Regions from separate parts of the Homo sapiens genome. Here region 2 is linked to region 1. The links come from fine-mapping of genetic effects on gene expression. A gene starts in region 1. The other region holds a variant in brackets. All regions are shown on one strand. Distances are between the middles of the regions. Region 1 holds the start of PART1 (prostate androgen-regulated transcript 1). Region 2 overlaps PART1 (prostate androgen-regulated transcript 1).

The links. PIP is the estimated chance that this variant, and not a neighbour inherited with it, causes the effect.
Region 2: its variant is the best candidate, but not a certain one, in a credible set for the expression of PART1 in prefrontal cortex (GTEx, PIP 0.82).

The regions. Positions count from the first base shown.
Region 1 is chr5:60,484,772-60,490,016 of GRCh38, reverse strand. PART1 (prostate androgen-regulated transcript 1) reads right to left here and starts at 2,304. Exons shown (of 4, transcript NR_024617.1): 1 at 1,594-2,304. It also overlaps a transcript of PDE4D not described here.
Region 2 is chr5:60,518,468-60,523,712 of GRCh38, reverse strand. The region is part of intron 1 of PART1 (prostate androgen-regulated transcript 1); the gene reads right to left. It also overlaps a transcript of PDE4D not described here. Among named protein-coding and RNA genes, the nearest start is that of PART1, 33 kb to the right of the region's middle. RefSeq lists enhancers at 812-1,071, 1,222-1,291. The variant C/T (reference allele first, on the strand shown) is at 2,403.

The sequences.
Region 1 (5,245 bases):
CTGGTGACGGTCTTGGACAGTAAGGGTTTTCTTCGGAGTTGTAGGAGGTGAAGTCTTCCTATGGGAAATTTCTGGACAAAAATACAAATGAAATGACTTGCAGGCCTCAGTTTAGAGTATTGTTGGCTTTGTCTGTCAACAAATGGAGATTTGAACATGGGAGTTCAAGGGGATTTTAATGAAATTTTATTAAGGAGATGAGAAGCAGGGAGTCTGTGTTGAAAATTCAATAAAGGGCTTGTTTTCCATCTCAGCCTGGATAATCTATGTTATCTCTGAGTAAAGGGGGTAACAATTCTAACAACCTGGCTTCCTTAGAAGTTTCCATTCTCATATAGTCACCGAAGGCAGCAGCACTGTCAAATAAACAAAGGTTTAATTAAATAAAAACTATTTAAACAGAGCAGAAATATTCTTCCCTGGCTAGTCACAGATTGGACAATTCAAAGAACAAACCCTGGGGGGAAATTGCCAATGGATTACTTTTTCTGTTTTCTGTCTATTGCAACGTTTTTCTTTCTGGTGTCAAATCTCAAGTTGAATTCAGTCAATTATCTACAGCCAAAAAAAGTGCATAAATGTCTCTTCTGTTACTGTTTATATGTCACCACTAAATAAAGCAAAATTTTCTTCTCAGCTTCTTGCCTTAGGATTTTATAAGTCCAACAAAACAAATAAAATATTATGTATATTCTATCGTCACTATGAAAGCATAAGGATTGATTTAGTTATGTACAAGTTTATTGCCAAAGTTTTTCTTCGTTGCTAATGTTACACTTGCTACAAAATGTATTAAAGAAACAGACAATTTGCTAAGGATTTGGAAGGATTTGTCATTGGGTTAAGTACATTAAGTATCTAAGGGGTGTGGTGTTCTGGTTATGTGTATGTCAGTTTCACATATTTTTTTGCTTTCTTATTTTAGTTGCCTCTATAATCATTTTGACTTTAAAATGTTTTCTGCAGATCCTTTAATAACTGCAAATGTAGAAGTATGGTGTAACAAGTAATTGGTATGACTAACACTAAAATGTAATGGGAAATAAGGATACTATTGTAAAGAAAACAAGAAAAACCTGGGGTAGGGGAGCAGTATTGATTCTCTCTTAGGATTCCTAAGATTCTCTGTCCCAACCCTTCTACCATGGAACATTCTTATGTGGTCTAAGTGTCAAAGACCAGAGGAACTGGGCAGTAACTTATCTTCTCAATTTTCTCTCTGAACATAGATATTTTCTTTAAGATACGAAAAACTTTTAATTGTGCTCCTGAAACCCATCCCTGTCCTGTCTCAGCCCCGTTGACTCTTCTTTCTGTGGGTGGGTGAAAAGCCTACCCATCTGCAAAGGTAGCTCTGAAACTGTTCTGGAAAATCCTGTATTTTCCTCCACAAATGATCGTTTTAGTTTCAAGTTTATTTCAGGTACATTAATTCTCCCCCTCCTCAGACTTCATAACAAATGATCCTGCACACGATTAGAATAGGAAAATGTAAAATAAAATCGAAGCATATCTAGTTGCCTCAGCGACTTTATGCTTATCACTTTCAGTCTGCATTATTCTACTAAAAATAAAAAGAAAGATGAAAATTACCTCAGGCGTTTGCTGCCGTGCCTGCCCTTTGGTTTCTGGGACGGCTCGGGTCCCGTAGCGCCGGCACAGCTGAGATTGCCAAGCCGGGAAGAGACCTTGCTCCAGGTGTAGCTGCGTTTTCCCCAGATCACCTGTCCTTTTCCCCTCCGACAAGGAAGCTGTGATTTTTCTCTGGCCTTTAGAGGCAAAGTGATTCCAGATAAGTAGATTAATGTGTAGAATATCTCATCTGTGTTGTTCCAGTGCAGCCCTTTCAGCTTTCCAGAGCCAGTTAGACTTGTTATGAGGAGCTAAGTGATTGGCTGGCTCTGGAGCTCAGTTTCATAGATTATAGCCCAGCGTACGAGAAGCACGAGTCCTATAGTTGGCGTACCCTGAGGCCTGCCAGTTCCTGCCTTAATGCATATGTAGTCGTAATTGAGTTCTGACACGGCCTTGGATGTTTCTGTCCTAAATAGCTGACATTGCATCTTCAAGACTGTGTGAGTAATCCTGATATTTTTTTTTTAAGCTCAGTAAATTAATTACATGCCCTGGGAGGGAGTGATTGTAAGTAGAAAATACTGAACTAGCAGATGATTCGTTTTTAAGGTGCTATACTATGTGTATCAAGTTCAAGACGATGAATCTTAAAGCTTCTAAGAACTGGCAGGGTTATTCCAGCTTTGTGCCATGAATCACAGTCAAGCTGCATTTTGAAGGAGGCTGTTTGATGCATTTGCTAGCTCTGTTTGTTTTATGGGGTCAGTAAAGTGGCAGAGGTCCAACAGGAGCAGGTTAAAGCAGGATGCTGGGATCAAAGCTTAGAGAGCACTTGAGTCAGGCAAGTTTTAAGTTTTCCCACCCCCAAGCATCTCAGTCCAAAACTGAGAGCAAGCAGCAAATATTATAATAAATGCTTTGGGGACAGGGGTACACAGCAGATAGGGCACAGTAACAGGAGAAATGTAAAATGATGGCAGCAATACTTTTGTTCACTGTAATCTGCAGCCAATTGAAGACATACACTATGAATAACTAAAACATTTTTATATGAACAAAAATGCTCTTCAGTGGTTCTGTTTATGTGGTAGAGGGCTGAATGAAAAACCATGCGCTTGTTGTAAAAAAGCCTTATAAAAAGTACATTAAACACATACAGACACAACCATAACAGAAGAAAGTATGTGGATTGGAATTTGTGATTGGAGCAGATCAAATTAAGCCAGGGAAGCCGTTATTAGGTTTGTATGATTGCTGGGGGGTAACTTCTGTTGCTGACAAGGTTTAGGATAAAGCTGGAGCAGATTGAAGTGGAAAACCAGAAAACATCAGCATTTCATTACCTTCTATAGCATACACTGCAGGGTAGAATTAATACTGAGTATAGACTGGTAAATGTGAGCAGTTTACTGTTTGCTTTTAAATCATTATTGATTTCCCCTAGCCTATCATAAAAAATAATAGGGCTTTTGCCTATGAAATTAGTGCTTAGAAATATTTTTCTTCCTCCCAAATAATTTTTATACTTTTTCTCAATACAGCACAAAGGTAGGTCATTAAAAATAAAGGGGTTCCTTTTCAAGTTGCTTTTTGTCTAATTTTTCCTCTTTAGACCTGTAGATACAAATGTATGTATTTGTGCTATGTATAACTCTCAAGCATAAATCATTTGAACAGTATTTAAAATCACAGGCTCCTGTGGCAAATATAAACTTTTAATAGCTATAGTTGGCAATTACTTGCCAATTCCTATAAAAATAACATTAGTGGCTTATTTTTGATTGCACCTAAACAACTGGCATGATTTAGCCAGTAGGAGAGAAATATTAGTTGTGTTTTGCATAATTTTGTGTTTAGATCACACTGGAAATACAAAGTTTTGTTGTTAAAAATATTTTTGCTTTCTGAAATATTATCCCCTTTCAGATCACACCAATGAATGAAGTTTGTAGAAAGAAAGAAAAGTAGCCAACGTAGACTCCTTTTCTGTATCAATCAAATATATGCAAAATACATAGATTTTTAAAAATGTAATTTTAATACATTCCTTTAGAAACACATTTACTTCATGAAGAAACAGTATAATGAGTTCATTTATTGACCCAGAATAGTGAGTTGATTTATTGAGTTTCTGTAGCCATAGACACGAATAGTAATGGTTGGCTCATTCTTAGCTATACATTCCTAACTGACTGTATTAGTGGGAGAAAGGAGTGCATCTATAAAATAAATATAATCCCATCCCTCAAGGTGGTCTGGAGCCCATCTAAGAGTAAGAAGTAGTAGAGTTGAAGCTGCTTTATCTGAATCAGCTCCTGACTTCAACTCAGCTCCTCTTTTTCCTTAGGTCCATGTGGCCCACTTGGTGTAGTATTCACATCTCCTTCCACCTTTTTATGCCTTCATTGTTTACATTACCTTGCTTGGGCTCTTATTGAGATGAATCACATAAAAATGCTTAATTATCAAACATTAATCAGCTGCCTATATAATTCAGAGGATGTTTAAAACCAAGGCTCAAGGAAATTCTGGTGGGTGTATACTAGGAGTATTTACGTCTTGCATCGGTACTTTCCTCTGGGACTTCCATCACTTCAGTTCTTCCTGAGATGCCAGAGTCATATCTCTTACTTGTGAAAGAACAGAGCTTTAAGAAATGGAGTCTAGAGGTGCCAGGTGCCCAGTGGACAGTGGGCTGGGGGCAAGGCATGGTGGGGAAAGCAAAAAAAATCTCCCAAACAGCAATAGTTGATCTTTCTTCTATCCACTCCTCTCAATTTTCTAAAACCATTTTTGTCTAACTGTGGAAGTTCTTTTGCAGATAAGGTTCTGTAAAACTATGCATATCTGCCATAGACAGATGGATTTGACGAAAGATGTATCCAAAAAGGAATGTATCACATCATGAACTTGCTAAGTGTTCATGAATACACACTGGCATTTGGAGACTATTAACACTACCTACTGAAGCAAAGACATAAATCCAAATTGAAGAAAATATAATTTTTTGATTGAATTACATTTTCCAGTGGGTTTTTTTTTTTTTGGTGAATTTTGTTTTTGGAAAAATTTGCTCTTCCCTCCAACGTTTTTCCTGTGTTATATATAGGACTGATTTGATTTCTTCAGCTTGCCCAAGAATTTAATAATTCTTACTTTGTGTTTTCAAAAGAGTTGCTGTCTACCTTGAGCATGTTTTTAAAAAAGCAGAACAAAACGAATGAAACAAATGTCCCTCTTCCCACAGAAAAAGCACACCACCAAGGAGTTAAATGCCCTACATTTCTTTAAGTCCCTCCTTTTGTGGAGCTAGACACTGGTAGAAGAGGAGCTTTCATTTAATTTCAAGACAATCAGTGATTCCAACTTAACTATAACTGTGTTCCTCTAATATCTGATTTCAAGAAGCAGAACATTTTGGTGAATTAATCTTAGAGTCAACGGGACCACGCTCAGGCCATGAAACGTTTTCTAAGCCTCAGTCTCTATGTCTTTAAAATGAAAATAATGATATATGTTCTGGTATTTTACTAGATTGGTGAATATCCACATCACAATGAGAAAGTGCTTGTCAAAAGAACATTGTAATGTGTAATTTGTAATGTGCTGTACATGTACACTATTATTATGACTGTAGCTCATCACGCTAGGGTTAGGACTCTTTACTTCT
Region 2 (5,245 bases), 34 kb before region 1:
ACCGTGCTTCTTTTTGGACATGATGGAATTTGGGGATGTGGTCTATTTGTTAGATGCAGTTTCTAGGAAGAGATTACCCAAAGAACTGAAGAACAATGACAAACTTATGTGTATGTGAGGGCAAGATAAAGAGTAGAGAGATGGTATAGTTGGGTATGGAGAGAATGCTGTAACTGAACTGCTCCCTTCAAGATGTCAGGTAAGATTGGAGAGAAAATGCAGGATAGCATTTGTCACAGGTAGTTGGAATGTGGAGGGAAGACTGGAAGGATGAGAAGGACTGAGGTGGACCTGTGGGCTGTGTTAGCCGGTGAAAGTTGGAGGGAAAGGGAAATGGGAGGCAGTAGAGCATGGAGTTACATATGCAGGCACTGGAGTCAGGCTGTTGGAGTTCAAAGGCTAGCTCTTCTGTGGATTTGTTATGTGACTTTACACGCTCTCTCTTGCCTCAAGTTCCTCTTCTGCAAAATGAGGTTAATAATAATACCTGCATAAACACATGCACAGCACACAGAACAGAAGCTGGAATGTGATAAGCACTTCATAAGCATTAATTCTTCTTACTGAAACTCACTAGGGTCACTTTGTGCATATTATCCTATTTAATCCTTAGTAACTGTATAGGTAGGTGTTATTATCTTCATTCTGCAAATGAGAAAACTGAAGTGCAAAGAAGTTTCATAATTTTCCTCAATCCACACAGCCACTATATGATGTGATAAAGCTTACCTAAGCTAGAGTCTTACCTGATCCATCTGGTGCCCGGGCTAGTGCACTTTCTCCTATAACACTCAGCCTAAGCTAGGTAGATATGGCAAGACCACTGGCTGAGGCAACTCAGATGTGATCAATAGGTAGTAGGGAACTGTGGCTGACTTGGGGGCAGGGGAAGCAGCATGCTGGAAAGATTCATCTGGTATGTTTATAGAAGAGAGCAGGCAGCAGGCATGGGGGGCTGATGATTCAGACCAGAAATGGCTGAGGAAATGGTGAGGTCTGGCAAATGTCAGAGGAGCTGTGATAGAAGAATGAGCAGAATTTATGACTGATGCAAATAAGGTAGATATGATGGTACGTGACAGAAACTGACTAAGAAGTCTGTATGCAGTGGGTGCAGCTTAGAGTTTCAACTTGAAAGTTTCAAACCTGGGACTCTAAGAAAATAGTCTGAATGGTAATGAGAAAGTTGTCACTTTAGTATCTGCTTCCCTTGAAGAAAAGCACCTTTAGAGGAACCAACTTGGAGAATAGTGTCGCATCAAAGTGGGACACTTCATTATTTTTAGTGGCAGCATGGTTCTGATGAGCACACCGTCGGTAACCTTTACTTCACTGTCAGTCCAGCTCTGTCAATCCTCCTTTATTAAGGAAGGAAGCTGATGGATCTTTCCTTTCTTTCTTTCTTTCTTTCTTCCCTGGAGTAGGATGTTTTCTGTACACAGTTAGCATGTGAACTTCTTTTTAAAAAGAAGTTTACATTTTACTCTAATTCTCATCCATAACGGAGTGTGGTGATTTGCATTTGGGCAGTTAGGAAAATCAGTTCTGTTGACTTCCTGTTTTCTATTTCTGGCCTCGAGCAGAACTTCCCATTTGAGTGGGACCAAGAAGAGCATACAAAGCTGAAATGTTCTCCAGAAGTTGATTTCCAATGGGGATAAAGTAAGTTAATGGTCTGAGGTGTTTGTCTCCCCTTGCCCCCGAAGCTTGCCCTTTAGTTGCTCTTGTTTTTAAACTACAGGGAATGAACTGAGGGAAGCATTTTTTTTTTTTTTTTCCTGCAGGTCAGAGTCCCAAAGCTTTAGTGCAGGGTTCCAAGGACTCAGGAGTTCAAAACATGCTGCTTAGGCTGAGCTCTTGGCCAGATTTGGAGATTCCAATGTCTTCTCCCTTTGACAGTTCCTAAGAATATTTTATTTGGATCCTTTTCTTTAGGTTTTTCTGTCTAAACATTTTATTTTACCTAGTGTGAAGGGGTGAGGGAGGGCAGATTGTTTCCTTTCTTCCTCCTCTCCCCTTCCCCCTCCCCTCTCCCTTATTCTCTGTTTATAATTTAAAAGGATGCTCACTTTCATTTTCTCATTTGCTTCCTTCACAGCACCCTGTGAAGCTGATATTGTTATCCCCCTTTGACAGAAGGGGAAACTGCAGTTTCAGTGAATTTCAGTGACTTAGTCAAGTCACTCAGTTAACAGTGCTGAGAGTGAAGCCCTAGTGTTCTGCCTTTAGATCTCTTTTTCCCAGTACCATACTGCTTTTCTGGTGGAGGTTGTAGTATATAGGATGATGTCAGAAAGGAGAGGCTGGGAAGCCTGAAACGATCACATCGACAATTGAATTGTCTGTTTTTTCTAATAAAATAGAAAATGTTAACTAAATATATTGCCATGCAATTCTTCAAG[C/T]ATATAGGACTTTGGGTCCTTTTTTGTGTCTCAGACTTTAAGATGATGTCTCCTGGGGAGTCATTTACTATATGCAAGGAGAATAGCTGAAAAGTCAGGGTAGGCCAGCAGTATTTCATGCTTTGTACTTGGGCAATATGGGTTTTTCTGTTGGAGGTTCAGCAGAGGATGGTAGCAAAGTGACATTTAATTCTCCTGCTTGCCAAATCTTGGTGAGGCCAAAGTGGGTGGGGGAATCGGTTGTGAGTAGGTGTTAATGACGAGTGTCTGGACCTTGACGTCTTCTCAGTCCTGGAGTAGGGAAAAAGGAACAGAATTAGTGCTGTTTAGAAGAAGCTGGTGATGGAGGTCTGCTTAGGAATGAGTGCAGATTAGGACAGGGGCAGTGAGGGAGGCCCACAGAGACTCTGGCTGCCTGTCTTTCCTGGCATGTCTGTGGAATGACCTTGCTCTGCCAGGACTCTGGGAGGAAGCCTTTGATTTTGGGGGAATCTTTAGGACTATGCACATAACCAGACTTTCCTGATGGGAATCTCCAAGGGGGCCTCCTGGGCCAGGGCCGTGGGCCAGCAGGTGTCTTCCTAACATGGTCTGTGAATAGTGCCCAACCTAGGCGGTGCCTTCTTTTCCTGAATCAAGCCCTTTCCTCCTCAGTGCCAAAGCAGAAGTGGCTGGGTGGGTGAAGATCTGAGTGCTGGCCCGGGGCCACAAGCCATGGGCCACTACCCATATTGCTGTGAGATCCTGACCTTTCTCTTTTCTGGACTCACAAGATAAAGAGAGTGAATGAGGAGGAAAATCAAATATTGTGGCAGGGAGGGGCTGACAAACACAGGCATGGCCAACAGAAGTCTCCCACCAAAGTGAGGAGCTGAGAGAAGGATTTGGGGAGGGAATGTCAGAAGTCTCACTCCCAGGCAAAGGATTCAACAAAGGAAAATCCGACTCTGGCTTGAATATGGTCCAGGTGTGGGGTTAGTAGTCCATGTTACTGTCTGACATGGGAGAGCATTCCACTGTGATGGAAATGGGGTGGGTTGGGGTACAGGAGGAACCATAGAGGTAGAAGAGAAAGGAGGTGAGAAGGAACATAGTCTGGCAGTTGACCAGAGTGTATCTGGCTGTATGGTGTAGTCCCCATAACAGGGCACCTATGTCTGTACATTGCACAAAAACAACCATCCAGTGTGTTCTTAAAAGTCCTGTGAAGGTACATTGTAATTTGAACTATATTTTGAAGATATCAGAGGATCCTATCATTTAGAAGAATCTCATGGGAATTACTTTTTAAAAAGAAAATAATCATTTTAGGGAATAGAAAGTCTCTCAACGATTGGTTTTGAATCTCTGGGTTTTAAATCCATTTACTCCAAGTAGGATTCAGTATTTCACTCTTTCACTGGCAGTGGATTGTTTTTTCTCCTACATATATGGCTTGAAAGCTCTTAACAAAGGATAGTAATTAATTATTTCCCAGCTATTTTTACCTTTGACGTATTAAAAGTTGGAGGAAACTATTTCATTTAACAGAATTTAAACAAAATGAAAAAGTTATTTTCCTTAAGGTATTCTGCTGTGCTTTTTCAAGGAAAAGCCTCCTCCAAAGGCACTTTTGGAGACAGTTACCAAAGGAAAATCCCACCCACCAACAGAGACACTCAGCCTCTAAGTTTGGCTTTTGGAAAATGAACACTATTCTTTTTTTTCCAAACAGGACGCTGTGAGATCAGTCATGTACACTATGAAAATAATTGGTGTGCATTAGTACACCTTGTGCCAGATTTCATGCTTGTTGAAAGGTGATTGGATTCAAACCAGCACATTTAAAGGTCAACTGGTTGTTCTTAAACTGTGCAGAATTTTAACTCTTTCATTATAATGGATTTTAACCAAATGGCCATTTTAGGAAGGAGAGAGACTGCATACTGTGTTTTAACTTTCTGACCTTTTTGTTCTTAAATTTTTTGTAAAGTTCTCAGGGATTTCCTATGGATGGAAAGGGTCTGAGAAATCAGTTCTCAGCTGGCATTTGGAAAAGGGTGGAAGTAGAAACTGAGTTCTTTTTAAACTGCTAAATTTAGGTCAGGGCTTTAATACGACTGTGCACATCACATAAGCAATGTCTAAATGTCAGGCTGAATGTTCTCTCTCTTTTAAATAAGTACTTCAAGTTCGTTAGTAATAGCTAGCCCTCTGTCTCTTTCTTGCTTCTCCTCTCACCTTTGAGCAACTTTTTAAGTTCCTTTAACAGCTCTGTGGAGAAACCACCATGTAATGATCAATATTTAACCCAGTTGGTTGACGTTAGCCCCGTTTCTGGAATGGGTATTTCACTGGGCTTTGGGGTTTTGATGACGTTTTCTCCCCAGTGACTGTGGATGCATGGATTAAATTTGTTGGTCTGCAAAATACCATCTGTCTACCAGCCATTTTGCTGTATTTCCCAAAATAAGGTAGGAGACTGATGTGTCTCAAATAAGCAGGGTGAAATTTAGTCATCTGATGATAGTTTCTTGGGTTGTGCATTAGTGTCCTGATGAGCCCCTAGCAACTTTCAACATTATGAAGACTAGTTTGGAAGCCTCAAAGGCAGTATCTTTCTTGAAGAAAAAAAAATAACACCAGGCATTTCCACAAATACCATACACAAGTGGTCAGGTAAAGGCTGTGGGAGTTCACGCATCTGTTTACCTTGAGTGTGTGTATGAACTCTTGTAGTTCTAACTAAAGGCAAATGGAAACTGTATAGAGTCCCATTTTGTCAAGCTGACAATTCAGTATCCTCTTCTTTCCTGGTTGCTTTATAGCCCACTCTTAGTTGTTCTCTTTCTATATTTCCTACA